Regions from separate parts of the Homo sapiens genome. Here regions 2, 3 and 4 are each linked to region 1. Evidence: fine-mapped expression QTL. A gene starts in region 1. Each other region holds a variant in brackets. All regions are shown on one strand. Distances are between the middles of the regions.

Evidence for each region. PIP is the estimated chance that this variant, and not a neighbour inherited with it, causes the effect.
Region 2: its variant is the best candidate, but not a certain one, in a credible set for the expression of CDYL2 in whole blood (TOPMed, PIP 0.64).
Region 3: its variant is the best candidate, but not a certain one, in a credible set for the expression of CDYL2 in neutrophils (BLUEPRINT, PIP 0.52).
Region 4: its variant is the best candidate, but not a certain one, in a credible set for the expression of CDYL2 in whole blood (TOPMed, PIP 0.55).

What each region holds. Positions count from the first base shown.
Region 1 is chr16:80,802,194-80,807,059 of GRCh38, forward strand. CDYL2 (chromodomain Y like 2) reads right to left here and starts at 2,405. Exons shown (of 7, transcript NM_152342.4): 1 at 1,957-2,405. The coding sequence starts at 1,980. RefSeq lists silencers at 1,186-1,335, 1,616-1,685, 2,296-2,605, 2,626-2,685.
Region 2 is chr16:80,735,347-80,740,212 of GRCh38, forward strand. All of the region lies in intron 1 of CDYL2 (chromodomain Y like 2), which reads right to left. Among named protein-coding and RNA genes, the nearest start is that of CDYL2, 67 kb to the right of the region's middle. RefSeq lists a silencer at 4,321-4,480. The variant AT/A (reference allele first, on the strand shown) is at 3,051.
Region 3 is chr16:80,829,364-80,834,229 of GRCh38, forward strand. ARLNC1 (androgen receptor regulated long noncoding RNA 1) reads right to left here. Exons shown (of 3, transcript NR_131948.1): 3 at 1-1,394. Among named protein-coding and RNA genes, the nearest start is that of CDYL2, 27 kb to the left of the region's middle. The variant A/C (reference allele first, on the strand shown) is at 2,891.
Region 4 is chr16:80,699,049-80,703,914 of GRCh38, forward strand. All of the region lies in intron 1 of CDYL2 (chromodomain Y like 2), which reads right to left. Among named protein-coding and RNA genes, the nearest start is that of CDYL2, 100 kb to the right of the region's middle. The variant C/T (reference allele first, on the strand shown) is at 2,039.

The sequences.
Region 1 (4,866 bases):
GGTTCATAAGTTCTAAACTTTAAATGGGGAAATACTGATGACTCCTAGTACATCCTCTTAACACCTTCAAGACACAACTTTTCACTCAGGCAAGGTCAACAGCTCTAAGCTGACTCAACCTCAATTCGTAGAAAACCATGATTCCAACCAGATCACTTTCACCCCTAAACAATATCTACTTTTAGCCAATGTCCCCACAGTACTGGTTACACATAAGGAAACTCAATCAAACCTTCTATTTTACTGTGCTTCAATTTTCAATTTCAGAAATTGTTCCACCATCTTGAAACAGACCAAGGCGCTTGGGTGATCCATTGGCCACATTTGCCGAAGTTCTTCACAAGATCTCTATCCAACTTCACCTTGTCTCTTAGCATAGAGATGAGGACGGCCACAGGGTAGTGAAGAGGGCAACATACACCATTCTTTCAAGGAGCTCTAAGGTCTCCCACCCACCCCACCTGAACCTGCTGGCCGGCAGTCCAGGCCTGGGCCTCACCAACTCCAGAATCATTCACAAGAACATGGTCACACAGGAGACCTGTGCTCCTTTCTCCATTCTTCTTCTCTAACGCCAGTCAGCAAACCCACCACCTGAAAAAGCTTCAACTGCCCACGAGGGCCTAGAGGAAAGAGCTTCTTAGGAATCACCCCCTGCAGTCTGTCGTGGGTGGATCACCCTACAATGTCTTATGCAAAAGGCTAATTCTACCCCTTCTGGGTGCTTATCTCAATGGAGCCCCAAAGCCTTAAGAACCAGATGGCGTTAACCAATTTATGTTCCGGGAAGTGCAGGTCCAGGCTAACCCATGCGGCTGGTTTCACGGAGGCCCAGAAGGCCCTCTGGTTGAAGATGGCTGGTCTCTTAACTTCTTTATCCTGAACCTGGTCTTGGCGGCCAACACCTCTGAGGCCATTCCCTCTGGGGAGTGGTGGCTGGCTGTTCCTTGTGTTGTCCACTTGTGGAAAACCCAAAGCAGTAACAGTTGTGTTCCTAAGCCCTTGCTCCCCAAAGACCATGGGTGTTCCTCCATTGTTTGAAAGATGCCAGACTAATGTCTTCCTTCGCCACTTTTGGGAAGACATGAGAGTATCCAACGCTGGCCACTACTCATTAGGACCTGGAGCCAGGTATCCACTGAGGGTGACGAGAGTACTGGGCGCTGGGCTGGCATCTGTGTCCTATGTCCCCAACACCTCAGACTTCCACGTTCTCCTCCCACCCAGGGCCCTCCGCAGCGCCCCCTTTCGCCCCCAGGGAGCACGACACCCGCAAGGGCCACCCCCACGCCCGAGCCCGGAGGGCGTCCGAGCTGGTGCGGGGGCAGCAGGTGGGGGGTGAGGGAGGTGGCCCGGGGACCCCGGGGAGCGGTTTGGCGGTTGTCCCCCCGAACCCCCACCCAGCCTCCCCCTTCGCAGCCCCCCGGGACCCCGCCTCGCCCCGGCCAGGCTCCGCTCCGATCGCCCGCCCCCCTCCTCCCCCGCGCCCCCGGCCCAGCCGGGCCGCGCAACCCCCGCCCCACACCCCCGCCGGCCGCGGCGCGCCCCCCCGCATTCCCAGCACGTCCGGCGCCGACTTTTACCTGTACTTTCTGTACTCGAGGCGGCTCGTCGGGCGAGAAACACCTCCCCGGGACCGCTACCTCCCCCGCCCCGGCTCCGCCCGGCTTCCTCCTTCCCCTCCAAGGCCGCAAAGTAGATGGAGTAAGAGAGTGTGTGTGCGAGAGAAAGAGAAAGAGGGAGCGGGCGCGGGCGCCGCGGGAGGCGGCGGGCGGCGGGCGGCGGGCGGGAGGCGCGCCCGGCCCCCGCCACCCTCCGGCCGCCGCCGCCGCCGCCGCGGGCTCGGCAACTCCGGATTGCGCCCGGCCCCGGCCCCGGCCCGGTCCCCGCCGCCCGCCGCCGCCGCCCGCCGCCGCCCGCTGACTGGGGCCGGCCCGCGCCCCCGCGTCCCCGTACCTCGTAAAGGTCCCCAGAAGCCATGCCAGGCTGCGGAACTTGGCTCGCCGGTGTGCGCGTCTGCTCGCTCGCGCCCTCCGTGCGTGTGCGCGCGGGGTCCGGTGTGCGCGTGTGTGTGCGCGCGTGTGTGTGCGAGTGTGTGTGGTGTGTTGAGTAAACTGTGTTTTTGCAGAATGACAGGCTTGGGGGCTGCCTATGCGCAGAATCAGAGCGGGCGGCGGCGGGGCTGGCGTAACCGGCAGCAGCGGCGGCGGCGGCGGCGGCGGCACGAGCGCGGGCAGCAGCGACGGCCGCGCAGCGCGCCCGGGAGGCACGGACGCGGCCCGAGCGCCGCGGCCCCCGCGACCCGGCGACCCGGCGGCGGTGGCTGCAGCCGGCAACGGCTCGCCCCGGCGCCGCCTGCAGGAAGCCGCCCGGCGCCCGCCGCCGGCCCGGACGCTGCTGCCACTGGGCGAGTCCCCGCCCCCCGGGAGCCCGGCCCGGCCCCCGGGGCGGGGAGGCGGGGGCTGCTGCCCGGCCGCGCCCCGGGGGACCGGTCCCAGAGTCGACTAGCGCTCGGGCCCGCCCCGCCACCCCGGGCCGGCTTCGGGAGCAGCTGGCGGGGCCCCCGGGGGGCGGCGGGCCAGGTGCCCGCCGGGTGCGCCCGATCTGGGGCCGCGAAGGGGCGGCCGGGGAGCCAGGTAGAGGGCTGCGGCTGCAGACCTCAGGGAAGGGGCCCCAGCCGAGCCCCGCCGGCCCGGGGTCCCCACCTACCTCCTCCACCCTCGAGGGGAGTGGACGCCGCCTGGGAGACCTGGCCCCTCGGGGCTGCGCGGCCCCTCCCTCCAGGCTGGGTTGTAAGATGTGGAGGCCACAGGGAGGAAGGATGAAATGGCCCATCCAGAGGCACCATGGGGATCCAGGACAGGCGTGGCCACCCCATAAACCCTGGAAAGTCTTTAGAGCCAGGGGTGGCCTTCCCTCAACAACCCCTCTCCCCGAATTTATTCACTCATCCCTTACTCAAACATTTACCAAAGTCAACCCAAGTGCACAGTGTCCCTGGACAGGCAAAACTGGGACCCTGCCCAGAGACAGTTTGAATCCGCAAGTGAGGAGTGTAATGGAGCACTCAGTTGTTCTAAAAGGTCATCCTGCGTGTGACAGGCTGCGGAGCTGGAGGAGCTAGAGAAGCTCTCCAAAACCCAAATCCGTTCCTAAGCCATCTCTCATGGATAAATGGTCACCCCTCTGCTTAAAGGGTTCTCCTTATAAATATTTATGTATATAGTTACTTCAGAACCTGCAAGGTCAGACTTCTGAAATTGGAGGGAAGATCTTCATCCCCACCCATGAAATGCCTGCCTGGCTCCAGATGTGATGTATCATTAACTCACATGCTCCCTGGATCATTTTCTACTTGGGAGGCTGTGGGCAGGTCACCGAACCCTGATGGGAGATGGTGATAGTCACCTAAGTGATTTAAATAGAATTAAGGAGAGGATCTACGTATACATGAAGTGACCTGTCCATCCCAGCAGAACTCAATAAAGGTGATTTGTATCTGAGTCTCAACCTGGACTGCCCTCATGGAGAGTGAGATGGCAGAGGGGCTCGATAAATTGTTTAATCCTGAGGTTGTCAAACTTTGAAAAGTCACCAAATTTTTTAATCCAAAAAAAAAAAAAAAAAAAAAAAACTCCATGGAACCTGAAGCATGTCTGGCTCATTCCAGGACACATGGATTTGCATTTGCTGTTCCCCCTGCCTAGAATGTCCTTCCACATTGAATCCATCTGGAACATTCTTGTTCTTCGTATAGGGGCTTGTTTATCTTTGTATCGCAAGCATCTTCCACTGTTCCTGAGAGAGAGTAGGTACACAGTGATTGTTTTTCGAACTATGCCAATATAACAAATTTTATACCAATTTCTAGTTAAAATCCCGCATGAAGATAAGGAAAAAATGGTGAGGATAAGGAATTAATAAATCAGAAAGCATATTTGGCTTAGAAACTGTTGAAATTGTTATAGAACTTCTCTCTTCATATTGATATTTTCCCGGTGGTCATGGTTTTAAATAATAACAGTAATAATAAGCAGTTCTCTATCTGTAGGTAGCTAAACAAATTTTAATGAGTCTTAATTTGTACTCACGAATAAATGCACCACCATAGCATGAGGATGTAATTTGGAAGAAGACAAGAAGGAAACTGGGCTTGGAAATAATATACTAAGCCAAATTTGAATATATAATCAGTAGTTTTACAAAAACACCAAAAGCTTGACTTGTACTGGCCAAGTACTCCCTGAGAATGTGAGTGCAGTTTGAAAAACCCTAGTCTAGACAACAGTTGTTTACAGAGTTCACAGAAGAGGATACTTAGTGTGGATGACCATGCTCAGGAAATGTTTTAGGACTGAAATGGATCTTGAAGACTCATAGAAAAGGAAGGACAGTGTTTTCCGTGAGGAGAAGAAGTCAGAGTAGATGGTAAGCAATTCTGCTATGGGAAGGGTATGAGAAGATTGGAGGACTGGTTTATGGAGGTCACAGGACCCTGGATGGTGAATGTGGGTCAGTTCGGAGATAGTCTTGAAAGCCAAGCTAAGAAGTTTGCTATTTAGTAGGTCAACAGTGGAGAAACTGATGAAGACTTTTGAATCAATCAAAAGCATGTGACTATCAAAAGTGCACTGTAGAAAACAAATTCTAGAAGAAATATGGGAAATCAACTGCAGGGTTTGAGGTTAGGGGCAGGGAGACCAATTGCAATGGTCCCTGGTGTTAGCAGTGGAAATGAAGAAGAAAAATGGGATTTGCGAGATGTTCAGAAGGAAGAACCAGGCTAACTTTCATTATGGTTACTCCACCTACTTCCATGAAGCATTCGATTCAGATCAACAGGACTTGATGACTAACAGGATGTGT
Region 2 (4,866 bases), 67 kb before region 1:
AGTCTGAGTGACATCCTTAAAGAGTTTTACAAGTTTTCCCCTTCTCTATGCATCAGTTTCCTCATCTGTAAAATGAAGTTAATAATAACCACGACATTGTCAAAAATTAATGAGCTAAATGATGCAAAGCACTTAGTTACGTGCCTGGCACTGAATGGGCACTCACTGAATGTGAGTGATTAATACCATCCCCATGTTTGATACTATAAGGCTCCAGTGATCTGGCTAGAGGGAAGGGAGGGAATTCTCAGAGGCAGCCCAGACCCCCAGGGAATGGCCCCCAGGCTCCAACTAGAGCTCTGGTGTCTATTCTAGAAAAGCTCCGGGAAGTTTTGTGCATAGACCTTTTTTTCTCAGGGACCACATAGCAATAATCACTGGACTCTCGACAGAGTACTCTGAAGCCATGGCACTGCTTTCAGACCACCCCTTCCATTTGCATTGCCTCTTCAAAAGAAACCTGCAGTCAGGGAGCTGCAAACAGCTCCTACTTTCAGAGAATGTTTTGGTCCCTAACCAGCCTCCAACACAGCCTGTCCACATCCAAGGCTAGAGAGAGCAGGGCAAGGCAGGCACTTAGGAATCACAGAGACTCGGGTCTGCACTTAGTAGCTCAGGGGCCTCAAGCAAGTAATTACTCCTCACCCCAGGTGGCTCCATCCGCTGGACTAAGGGTCACCTTCCCAGCTTGTCCTCAGTAACCAGCCTTTTATGACATAGGCCAGTGACCTTGAGACTGTGGAACTCCCAGCTGTCACAGCTGGCCACAGGCCCAAGGCCACTGTGTGCAAACCTCCATCTCGTGGGTTGTTCATCAGCTCCTGAACCTAACTGCAAATGGTGACACATCCCCACCATCAATACATTTATAATTCACACTGTTTCAGAGCCCTTTAACGAACATGTTCTCATTTGTCTGTTCTCGTTTCTAACGGCAAAACACGATACGTAACCATCATGCACAGAATACTAACACAAGTGACTCCTTGCGTGAGTTTAGTTTGCAACACTGTCCAACACACAGCATTCAACAGACTAAGCACTTATTTTCAAGTTACTAATTTTTAATTTACGAAGCCCTTATGTGCAACATGACAGTGAGCAAGAGAGGTACAAAGCTGAACCCCCAGTCTCTTGAATATGAGGGGAAGCTGGGAAGATATCAACAGGTAAACATGAACTTGTATACAATGTTTGAAGGAGGAGACAGGACAGCAATGTGGCTGAACACTGGGACTGTGGACTCAGATGTCTGAGTTCAAAAAGTAATCTCAGAAAATAAGGCTGGGTATAGTGGCTCACACCTGTCACCCCAGCACTTTAGGAGGCCAAAGTGGGAGGATCACTTGAGTCTAGGAGTTCAAGATGAGACTGGCCAACATAGTGAGACGTCATCTCTATTTTTTTAATCATCAAAAATTATTTTTAATGATCTATCAACTTACAGCCCAATTAGGGCTTCCTTCAATTATGTACGAACCACTTGACTTGGATAAGGACTTGTTACCCAGTCATTTGAACTGTTCACTTGCACATGGATTTATTATCTAATCATTGTTCACAACCTCAGTATTTCCATTTATCCTCTGTTGGAGCCCTGGAAATTTATATTACATGATGCATCGTATTCAGATTTGGGATGGCTGAGACTCTGCCTTTCTTTTGTTACGTGGGAGAAGGGCTCCTGTGGAAAGAGAAGACAAGGAAAGAGAATTTGCTTCATGCCCCCTTTGCAGGCAGATCAGTTTCAGGACAGCCTGTAGGAAAACTGAGGATCTTGAAATTGAGCCTCACAAATCTATCCATGCCCCCAGACCAAGTCTGCTTGTACCTACCAGTGTGTAAGTACCCCATGTAGACTGCTGTTCCACAGGATGTTGAACTCACAGAGATGTTAACACTTTTGCAGAGGATGGATTTGCTTGAGTTTCCTTTCTGGTATAGTGGCTTTTACTTAATGTGCTGCTCTGTGCTAAGTGCCTTACAGGTAAGGTCTCACCGAGTCCTTGGAACAACCTTAAAAGGGAGGAATCATTATCCCTATTTTGCAGATTCAGGGGTTAAGGGAAGTGGCAGCCAGCAAGTACCAAAGCTGGGGTTCAAACCCAGGGCTGTGAGAATTGCAGAGCGTGAGCTCTTCAGCCACTGTATTAAACTGTACCTTGCTCTAGGTACCGTGAGCATGGCTCTTCATACCAGCTGTTGCCTGGACTGTTGTTGCTGCTGTTGCTGCTGCTGCTAGTGGTGGTGGTTTTCTCTTTGTCTCTTTCTTGGCAAGTTTCTCCAAAGCACTGGTTCTCAAACTTTGGTGTGCATCAGGATCAGGTGAAGGCTTTGTTAAGACACAGATGGCTGGGCTGCACATCCAGAGTTTCCGATTCAGTAGGTCTGGGGTAAGGCTGAGAATCTGCATTTCCAAGTCCCCAGGTCTGGGAACCACACTTTGAGAACCATTTCTCTAAAGAATGCCCAGCCTCATGGGAGAGATTCTTTTTTCTAATGCATTTAGGGACTGGTTGTTGTTGTTGTTGTTGTTTTATACTTTAAGTTCTGGGTTACATGTGCAGAACGTGCAGGTTTGTTACATAGGTATACATGTGCCATGGTGGTTTGCTGCACCCATCAACCTGTCATCTACATTGGGCATTTCTCCTAAAGCTATCCCTCCCCTAGCCCCCAGCCCCCCGACAGGCCCCATGTGTGATGTTCCCCTCCCTGTGTCCATGTGTTCTCACTGTTCAACTCCCACTATGAGTGAGAACATGCAGTGTTTGGTTTTCTGTTTCTGTGTTAGTTTGCTGAGAATGATGGTTTCCAGCTTCATCCATGTCCCTGCAAAGGACATGAACCCATCCTTTTTTATGGCTGCATAGTATTCCATGGTGTATATGTGCCACATTTTCTTTATCCAGTCTATCACTGGTGGGCATTCGGGTTGGTTACAAGTCTTTACTATTTTGAATAGTGCTGCAATAAACATACATGCGCATCTGTCTTTATGGTAGAATGATTTATAATTCCTTGGGTATATACCCAGTAATCCCATGTCT[AT/A]TTTTTTTTTAAAAAAAGGAATTTTAGGAAACAAAAAGAAATGAGTACTAATGCTACATGCTACAACTAGGAGAATTAGAAAATATTATGCTAAGTGAAAAAAGCCAGACACAAGAGACTATACATTGTGCCAGTCTATTCATATGAAATTCCAGAATAGGCAAATCCATAGGGATAGAAAGCAGATTTGCAGTTGCCAGGGCTAAGGTGGGGACACAAGAATAGGCGGGTGATAACTAAAGGGTATACCGTTTCTTTTTCAGGTGATAAAAATATGCTACAATTAACTGTGGTGATGTTGCACAACTCTGTAAATACACTAAAAATCACTGACTTGTACACTTTCAATTGGTGAGTCATATGGTATGTGAACATATCTCAGTTAAGCTATTTTTTAAAGGTAACTTTGGGCAAATTATTTAACTTCGCCAAGCTTCAGTTTCCTCATCTATAAAATGGAGATGATGATAGTGGCAAATTTCTAATTCTTGTGAAAATTCATAGGAACAACTTTGTAAAAAAAGCGCTACATGCTTTGACCACTATTGTCTTCAGCTGTAAAAGATCAGAGGAGTATTTCACAAGGTGAAAAAGGTGGAAGCAACCCGATTTTCCATCAATGGATGAATGGATAAACAAAACGTGGTATACACACACAATGGAGTATAGTCAGCCTTTAAAGGGAAGTAAATTCTGACATATACTTCAATATGGATGAACGCTGAGGACGTCACGCTGAATGAAATAAGCCAGTCATGAAAAGACTGTATGATTCCACTTATCTGAGGTCCCTAGAGTATTTTATTTCATAGAGACAGAAAGTGGAATCGTGGTTACCAAGGACTGGGGGAGAAGGGGAGAATGTGGGATTAGTGTTTAATGGGGACAGAGATTCAGTTTTGCAAGATGAAAAGAGTTCTGTGGGTGGACAGTGGTGATTACTGCACATCAATGTAAATGTACTTAATACCTCGGAAATGCACACTTAAAAATGGTTAAGATGGTAAATTTTATGTTATATGTATTTTATCACAATCTAAAAAAGAATAGAATGGGGAGATGCAAGAGCTAAAGAAAGAAATGTCAGTGGGAAGGAGGGAGAAATTTGGAGGTGTCATAGGACAAAAGATCAGGAGCTAAGCCCCAGCGGGGCAGATTCACACAGCAGCCGGGCACCAGCAGTCCCAGGATAGCACCCAGCACACCAGAGAGACCCTAGCACTGCCTCCCAGGAGTGTGCTGGCATCCTGCTCTGCCATCCACACCGCCACCCACACCAGCCCATGGAACAAGACGCACCAGCTCAGAGCTCAGGTGTGGGAGGTGGGAGCCAGAATGAGTCATAGAAGCGCTGCTCTCAGAGAGACAGAGAGGTCACTGCCTTACTCCCTGCCAATCAGGGAAACTCCCCAAAAACAGAAGCCTCACACTGGGGACCTGCTGTCCACGGCAGGCCAATTACAGCCCAATTACCTGAAATGCTGATCTGGGCTATACCAACAAAGCAGCCCAAGTCTGTGGAGCACAAAGCTGAGTCACGTACATTGATGCCCAGGATGAAACGACTTGGGGGCAATGTCACTGTCTTTGCTAGGGTCTTCCCCATGTGGCTGTGGAGGGTGGTGGGTGCCAGAGGAGGGGACGGGTGCAGAGAGAAATTACAGAAGACAGAAAAGCTACTTACAGGTCTCTAACTCAGAAAAAGAGGCTGACTAAATCGGGCAGGATTGACAACCACATGGACAAGTTTGTCAGTTCAGTGTTCCTTGCTAACCTTGCTCTGTGGAATGAGCACGTCCAGGAAGATGCACCAAA
Region 3 (4,866 bases), 27 kb after region 1:
GGCTCTCTCACCTGAATTTTGTCTTGCATCTCTGTTCACTTTGCCTGTTTCATTGTCTTGCCATCTCATTCTTTCTAATGGAGAAGTAAAGGAGGGACTCTGTTCCTCCCCGTACCAGGAGGGTATTGATGTTTGAGGTCCAAACTGAAAACCCATCACCTCCTTCCCACTGCTATAGCAGCGTTAGCCCTGGGGTTCATTATCTAGCCAGTTCACACCTTCTAAAGTGGGGCTCTGAAAATGTCTTACTTCCCTCACAGACAAAGCAATTCTCAAGCCTCCTGAGATCACCCACCAACCAGAGCAACTGCTGTCACTTGGAGGTGCAGCTGAATTCTTCTAATTGTGACACAAACTCTTGAAACTGTAAATGCTGAAAGATTAAATGAGGTTATAACACTCAGAAGGTTTTACAAGTAAAAGTAAGTCAAATCAATAGGTCTTTATTTCATATCTGTAATGGTTTAGCTCTGCGGGAAGTGTTAGCAGCTATATGAATTAGGAAGAATTTAGAAGACAATCCCTAAACACATGAAATGTCCAAGTAAGAAGATAACATATTTATCCAAATATTTAAAGTGAAATGCTCCAGATATGGGAAGCTTACAGTTTTCAAGCAAAGCTTTTTAGAAAAAATTATGGAACTATTTTAAAGAGAGCTAAACATTTCTTTGCCTTAGGCAGAATATACAGAACACAGATTCACCTTTTCTGTACATCTCTAGATGATCACGAATGTCAAATATCACACTACACTGTGATATGGGGATTCCCCTTGGGGGTTTTCATGTGTATAGGGTGCCTGCAGCTACACTAAACATCTTAAAGCTACCACAATGTTCACTTCATATTTTTGCTTTTTATAGGCTTTCTTGGTCTCCTCCTATGTTCCCATCATTTTCTTGCTTTGAATCTGTAAGAATCGAGTTGAATCTTCTCCATTTTAAATTTTCCATAGGCTGAGAAACTGTTTAGCCAAGTTTGGATAAAATTGTATCCAAAGTAAGAGTATACAAGCTATGGGCAAGTCCAAAATCAAGCTGTTCACAGGACCATGTTCTCTCTAAAGGTTCTAGGAGAGAATCCCTCATTTCCTTCCAGCTTCTGGGTGGCTGCTGGCATTCCTGGGCCGGTGGCTGCATCCCTCCAATCTCTGCCTCCATCTTCACATGACCTTCTTCCTTGTGTTTCTATGGGTTCTTTCCTGTTTTTTATGAAGACATTTTCATTGGATTTAGATCCCATCCTAATCCAGTATGATCTCATCTTCAGTTTTACCTAACTTATATCCGCAAAGGCACTATTTCCAGATGAAATTACGTGCTGAAGTTCTAGATGGATATAACCTTGGGGGCCATGAAGAACTCTTCCACTTACTGCAGAGATCCATCACCCTAAATAGTTAAGAACAAGAGAAATGTAGAATAAAATCTCAAGCTCCCAGGATGACGTTCCGGGGTCTTCCTATTCCACCCTCAACCCTTATTTTTGACCTCCTGTCCTGCAGCCACACTCCGGCCCACACGCTGTTCCTGGCTCCCAAACCGCTGCACTGGGCTGCCTCAACACTGTCTTTATAAAGTTGTCATTCACTGAAACTTCCTTCATTCCTTGAGTGTGCTGCCCCACGTAGTTGCCACATATGAGACAGGTACCATCATTACTTCCATTTTACACATGAGGGAGGTGAGGGTTACAGAACATAAAGAATTTCCCAATATCACACAGCTAGCAATAAGTGGAACTTGAGTTCAAAAACAGATTTGGCTGGGTTCAGAGCTTGTGCTCTTGACTATGAAGAATAACCTTAGCATGTTCCTATAACAGAAAAGACAGTGGAGTTCCCGAAGCAAGACAAAAAGTGGTAGGAGACAGAAAGCTAAGAAGACCAGCACCTGATTAGGTGGGGCCTCATATGCATGGAAAGGTGAAAAGGAATTCTGAGTGTGGTGGGAATCCACCAAGGACAATGAGGATGATGAGAGCTTAGAAAGGGCTATTACATTTGCTTGTTGTAAAGAGAAGTTTCACTTAGTCATTCATTCATTCAATTATTCACTTATTACATGAATATTTCTTGAGAACCTAGTGTGTGCAGGGTACAGTTGTACATGGGAAGGATACGATGGTGAGCATATCGGATGCAATCCTGGTCATTCTTGAGCTTATATTCTAGTAGAGGGAGAAAGATAATAAGCAAGTGATACAGTTTGGGTATTTGTCCTTGCAAATCTCACGTTGAAATCTGATCCTCAGTATTGGAGGTGAGGCCTAGTGGAGGTTTTTGGACCATGGGGGCAGATCATGCATGAATGTCTTGGTGCCATACCTATGAGTGAGTTCTTACTCTATTAGTTCAGGCAAGATCTGGGTACTAAGAAAAAGCCTAGCACCTCCTCCTCTCTGTTCTTTCCTGTCGCCATGTGATGCAGCTCTCCTTCGCCTTCCGCCATAACTGGAAGCTCCCTGAGGCCCTCACCAGAAGCAAATGCTGGCCATGCTTCACGTACAGCCTGCAGAACCATGAGCCAAATAAACTTCTTTTCTTTATAAATTACCCAACCTCAGGTGTTCCTTTATAGCAACACAACGGACTAAGACACTAAGTAAGCCATTAAACAAGCCAATACAGGTAGTGATATGCACCTTTTTTTTTTTTTTTTTTTTTGAGACGGAGTCTCACTCTGTCACCAGACTGGAGTGCAGTGGCATGATCTCTGCTCACTGCAACCTCTGCCTCCCGGCTCCAAGCGATTCTCATGCCTCAGCCTCCCGAGTAGCTGGGATTACAGGCACGCATCACCGTACCCAGGTAATTTTTTTGTATTTTTAGTAGAGACAGGGTTTTACCATGTTGGCCAGGATGGTCTTTATCTCCTAACCTCGTGAT[A/C]CACCCCCTCAGCCTCCCAAAGTGCTGGGATTATAGGCATGAGCCACCGCACCCAGATGATATGCACTATTTTAAGAAAAAAAAAACCTACTATAGAATGGCAGGGAAGAGGGGGAGCAAAACTCCAAACTGTCCAAAGAAGAAACATTTGAACTAAGATGGAGGCAATGAAGAGGAACCAGCTGAGTGATGGTCTAGGGGCAAGATCTAGGGGAAAGTCAAGAGAAAGAGACTGAAGAGAAAGGGTTAGGGCTGATTTAGTGAGCAAAGATCCAGGAGGGGGAGAAGTTTACAGTACCCTGAGAACAGCAATAATGCACAAACATTACTATTCCAACAGCTGCATTGAAACACCCTTGGTAGGATTGGGAAAAAGATGGATTATTGCCATTTGGACACTCCAGGACTGTCCATTAATACTCCTGACTAATGGAAGATGATAAAGATTGGGCAAGAAAAATGACTGCAGCAAACGCCTTGGCATCTTCAACTTGTCACCTTTAGCAAGAGGCCTCTTCAACAGTTCTTGGACTGTGTTTGGCAGCCAGGCACTCTCAGAACGGCAAGGAGACACAGCTAACATGATCTTTGCAATGCAACAAAACAAGCGATCTTGAGGCGACAGAGTCCAAAAGATGACAGAAAATTCATCCAACTCCTGAAGCATGTGATGCCACCAGAAAGCCTTGGCAACAGCCCTTGCAACCCCAGGCTACACCACCTCAGTCAAAGCCAAGTCCTAACATATCTCCCTTCTTCTCCTGCAGCCAAGCTGGGCAAGAAGAGATTAGACTCCAGCCCCTTGCAAAAGCTTCAAGCTGCATGTGTCACCAAAAGACCTTGAGAAAGTCACAGGAAAGTGTCTAAAATCTACATAGAAAACATTTGCCCAAGGAGACTTGTGTGACAAGGCAGGGCCCACTTTGCAGAGCTGGCAGATGTCACCATTGCTTGAGAGTTCTTCTCCTTGACTTAGTTCTGTAAACCAGATGCCCCCCAACACGCTCTAGTTTGATGACGGCATATTTTCTTTTATTCTCCAAATAAAATGTGTCGAGCTCCCATCTCATGTACTAGGAGAGGTCCTGTGACCTTTCCAGTGCCTCAGAGAGTGAGAATGGGAAAGAGGAGTGGATGAAGTAGGGCTTACCCTCCTGTGGGTCACCTCTCTTCCCTGCTGCTTCTGAACCCCACTCAGCCTCCTTCCCTCTTCCCCAGCAACTATCCCAAAGCTGTTACATCGTGTGGCAAACGTTTACTGAGGCTTTTAGGGATAATATAAGTGGTTTCTTTACAACCATTCCTTCACAGCCAGAACGCACGTAATTTAAAACTGTGTCATTTTCACACACGTCCCATAATGTCTCCTTCATGGGGAGCTTCTCATGGCCTTGGTCTCTCCCCAGAGGCTGCCTATGGCCATATTTCTGGGATCCAATTCTCACACACTGGGCCCCTCATTCTTGGGCTTCCCACATTCAGTTACCTCATTCTTGGGCTGCCCACAAACAGTCAAAATCCTTATTTTCTAAGCTGAAGCAGTTGAGCTCTCTCACTTACCCTTACAAATCTAGGTTTTGCCTAGAAGTAGTCAAAAAAGCAAGACAGAGACATCTTCATCAACCACAAAGTCTCATCAAAGTATTTTACTCCATCAAAGAGCCATTCACTTCTGATAGCCATGCTCTTCCTCTCTTAAAAGGCAGATTCTCTTTGTTTTTTTTTTTTTAACTAAATACAACGTTTTCTTCCTACCACACTGCCTCATGATCCTATTAAAAGATATCAAGATGAGGACCAGCCATGAATTCACTTCCCTCCGCAGTCCACTAACATGTTGCTTTAGTGAAAATAAACAAAACAAAAATTTAGAAATTAAACTAGGGCATTTGGATTCTTAGAAGGGATAAAACTGCATGGTAGTAGCATACGGTGATGTCCTAGATTCAATTCTATGACTATTCAGTGGCTGGAGT
Region 4 (4,866 bases), 100 kb before region 1:
TAAACTGTTGGTGGGAATGTAAATTAGTAAAGACATGGAAAATAGAAAGGAGGTTCCTCAAAAAAACTAAAAATTTAATATCATATGATTCAATAACCCACTACTGGGTATATATCCAAAGGAAGGAAAATCAGTATGTCTAAGATATACCTGTACTCTCATGTTTACTGCAGCACTATTCATAATAGTCAAGATATAGAACCAACCTAAGTGTCCATCAACAGATGAATGGATAAAGAAAATATGATATACATATTTATATACAATGCAATACTATTTAGCCATAAAAAAGTATGAGATTCTATCACTTGTGGCAACATGCACGAGCCTGCTGGACATTGTGTTAAGTGAAATAAGCCAGGCATAGAAATACAAATACCACTAGTACTCACTCATACGTGGAAGCTAAAAAAGTTGATCTCATAGAAGTAGAGAGTAGAACAGTAGTTACTAGAGGCTGTGAAGAATAGCACGAACAGAGGATAGGGAGAGGTTAGTTAATAAATACAAAATCACAGCTAAACAGAAGGATTAAGTTTTAATGTTCTACAGCACTGTAAGGTGAATATAGTTAACAAAATTTTATTGTGTATTTTCAAATAACTAGAAAAGAGGATTTTTACTATTCTCAACACAAAGAAATGACAAATGTTTGAAGGGATGGATATGCTAATTACCCTGATTTGATCATTACACATTATCTATATGTATTGAAATATACTATACTCCATAAATATGTATAATTATTATGTGTCAAAAACTTTTCTTAAAAGGTTGAAAGGTATGTGGAAAAGGTAAATAATTAGAATGACCAAAACAATTTTTTTTTTTTTTTTTGAGACGGAGTCTCGCTCTGTCGCCCAGGCCGGAGTGCAGTGGCGCGATCTCCGCTCACCGCAAGCCCCGCCTCCCTGATTCACACCACTCTCCTGCCTCAGCCTCCCGAGTAGCTGGGACTACAGGTGCCTGCAACCACGCCTGGCTGATTTTTTAGTAGAGACGGGGTTTCACCATGTTAGCCAGGATGGTCTCGATCTCCTGACCTCATGATCCGCCCGCCTCGGCCTCCCAAAGTGCTGGGATTACAGGCGTGAGCCACTGCGGCCAGCCAAAACAATTTTTAAAAAGAGCAAAGTTGGAGAAATCACAGTGCCTCTGCAAAATTCCAGATAAATTAGAAAGTTAAACAAAAATCTAAGAACATATCAAACACAAAAAATGCGTTTTAAGACTTACAGTGGAGAAGGTCACTGAAACAAAAATCTAATGGCCATGAAGAGTGCTAAATTTCACTAAACTATAATTAAAATTTTTCCTTTCATAAAAGACATCAAAAATAAAATTAAATGACAATGGACTGAGAAAATATTCACATTTGCAACAAAAGAGTAACATCCAGAATATGTAAGGAACTTCAAAGTCGATTAAGAAAAAGAAGTTAAAAATGGGCAAAGAAGCAGAATAAGAAATACAAATTCAAATAAATAAAAATGGCTATCAACATATTAGAAAGAGGGTTAAGCTCATCACTAATCAGGGAAATGAAAATTAAAACAGTGAGAAAGATCAGCAAAATTTTAAAAGGTTGCTAATACCCTATGTTGGCAAGGATGTGGGCATACGAATAGCTATATATGTTCTTAGCATATGTAAATGGATATACCCTTTAGGGAAGGTAATTTAACAGATATCTATGCAAATTAAAATGTACAACCTTCTCTCCTCCTCCTCCCACACATAGTACATAGGTTCACATCATGCTAGCTTTCTCTCGCCAGTAGGCAGGAAACAGAAGAAATGTATCACCTCTGAACAGAAAGGTTTAATTTCCTATTTGTTGTCTTCCCTGCCACAGCAACAGAGCAGGCCATGAGTTGTAACGCCGTGCAGCTAAGAAACAGTTAAGCCTTCAGCAGCAGCCTGGGTCTCTGAGGGACTCGGCGGGCAGAAGATCCCACTAAACACTGTTGGACAGGTAGCATGAGTGAGAAATAAACCCCTGCAGTCTTAAGCCACTGGGAAAAAAATCTGCACAAAC[C/T]CTTGAACCAGCCATTTGACTTTTGAGTATCCATCCGCATACAACCAATTCTAAAGGGAAAAAAGCAATAAACAGGGACTCTATCAAAGTAGAACCTCTACATAGATCAAGACAGAGCTATATGTCTTAATGTACAGTATGATCCCATTTATGTCAAAATATGCATATGCAAATATATAAAGGTCTGGAATAATTCACTGTTAATCTTCTATGGTTATTGCCTAATTATTAACAATGGTTTTCTCTAAGGCAGGGAGTGGATGCAGGGGAAGAGGCCACAAAGAAGGTCTTTCATTTCTATTCAAATTCTTCTGTAAAGCTTTTTTTCAATGAACATTATTTACATAGTATCTATTCCATTTAAAAATCAATAAAAATATTTTTTAAATTAATTTGATTTCTGTTTTTAAAAATGACCAACTGGAACATATCATGGGGAAAAATGAGCACATTCCAAAAAACAACCAAAAAAACACCGAATTGCAAACGTTAACTTTCACAAGAAATATTGGAAAACTACAAGAAGATAAACAACAAAATTCTACTGAGATGTTTTAAAGGGCTGAAATGAATGGAGCTGTATGTACCATGTTTCTGGATGGGAAGTCTTCACATATTAAAAGTTGGTTTGCAACAAACTGATCGATAAATGTAACGCAGTTTACAATCAAAGTCCCAATGAGTTCATTTTCAGAACTTTACAAAATGGTTCTCAAGTACCTTTGGGAGAATTAAATAAAAATAGCCAAGAGATTTTTGAAAAAGAAGAATAATGAGAAGGCACTTCTACAATAACATACTCAAGTAGAATATAAAGCCACTATACTTGTGAGTGTAGCATTAGGACAGGAAAAATAAATCAACTGAGCAAGAAAGCAAGCCTGAAAACATCCCTTCATATATTAGGAGATAAAATCGGAAACAAAGTAGCATCAAATATCAGTGCCAAATAGCAGAATTATTGCATAAGTGGGATTGGGGCAATTATACAGGAATGTGGAGTGAGAAACAAACCCCCACTTCACAGTAGAGGAATCAGAGTTTGGGGGTTTTCTGAAAATTAATTCCAAGAGGTTCCAAGAGTCAGAAGGCCTAAAACACACACACACACACACACACACACACACACACAAAACTATAAAAACTTAGAAGAAAACAAGACAGAGGTAGACAGCCATCTCATTTTTCATTGAAAGACATCCCATGTTCAAAATAATATTTTGCTCAGAAAAGCACGTTCTGCACATGTATCCCATTTTTTAGAAGAAATCAAGAAAAAAAGTGTATAAAATAGAAAAAAATTAAGTGGCATGAAGTAAAATAGTAAAAATAATCAAGAAATATATAAAGATCTCAGGAATATCATTAGGAAAAGCAGACAGGTCTGGACATGAGGGCTCACGTCTATAATTCAGCACTCTGGGAGACCAAAGCAGGAGGATTGTTTGAGGCCAGGAGTTTCAGACCATCCTGCGCAACAGAGTGACAACCCATCTCTACAAAAAATTTAAAAATTAGCTGGGTGTGGTGGCTCATGTCTGTACTCCCAGCTACTCGGGAGGCTGAGGCTGGAAGATCGCTTGAGCCCAGGAAGGCAAGGTTGCAGTGGGCTATGATCGTACCACTGCATTCCAGCCTGGGTGACAGAGTAAGACCCTGTGGACAGGTAAGGCCACAATATTAGGAGGCTAGCCTGGCCTCCTGGAGGATGAGTAGACACAAAATGCCGCAGCCAACAGCCAGCACTGCACGCCAGAAATGTGGGTGAGGCCATCTTGGACTTTCCATCCCAGCTGCATGAGTGAGCCCAGATGAAATCAACAGAGCTCACCCACAGAAGCCTAAGAAATAATCAGTTGTTATTGCTTTAAGCCACTAAGTCCATAACTGATATAACTTGACATAAAAGTTTATTAGAGTATTAGCTCAATCATGTGGAATATATATACACACATGAATCTAGGAAAAAAAGATAAGAAGGAAATGTTAATAAAAATAGGAAACCCCATTAACAGAATTATCTCAACCATGTAGAATATGCACATACACACACACCTGGGCAAAAAGAGAGGTGGAGATGTTAACAAGAATGTTATCTCCAGGGAGCAAGATTAGTGTTAATTATCTTCTTTATACTCTTTTGTATTTACAAAGTTTCCTTTCATGAACAGATAAATATATGTGAATAGCATTATATTTTAAAGGTTGATTTACCTCCACAACTAGACTGTGGCCTCCTTGATTGTAGAGGCTCTTTTTTTCGACTGTGAACCCCACGGCTTGTCACATGGTAGAGGTACAGTCAATGCTAGATGAATGAATGAACACAGAAAGCCTCAGGCTTATCCCCAGATTCAGGATTGGACTAGAGCTACCAACCTCGTCACTGGTCCCTGGACTTTCTCTAATGTGCACTAGACCAAAGCTGGTGCCCATGAGTCAATGCCCACCCAGCCACTCTGCCCTTACAGCAGGTATCCCCATCACCCTGTGGTGGCTCAGGCCACAGGGCCTCCCTGTGGGGTGCTCTAGCAACCAATCTGGTTACCATGCATCACACTCTGGCTCAAGGAGAGGGACAAGTGACCCAGCCCCTCCCAGAACCGCACCTGGTGGTCAGGGGCTTCTCCACGGCTATTCCTGGGTACAGGCTCCCCTAAGTCCTGCTGGTTACCAGGACCCCTACTGCAGGGTCCTGCCCTCTTGACCTCTGATTCCAGACCACACCTGGCCTTGCCTGAGCTTGGATGACAAGCCTCACCTGCGGAGCCACGTTAGCATCAAACTTTGCACCCAGGTAAGCAGAGCAGCCACCTCCCTTCTCTTGC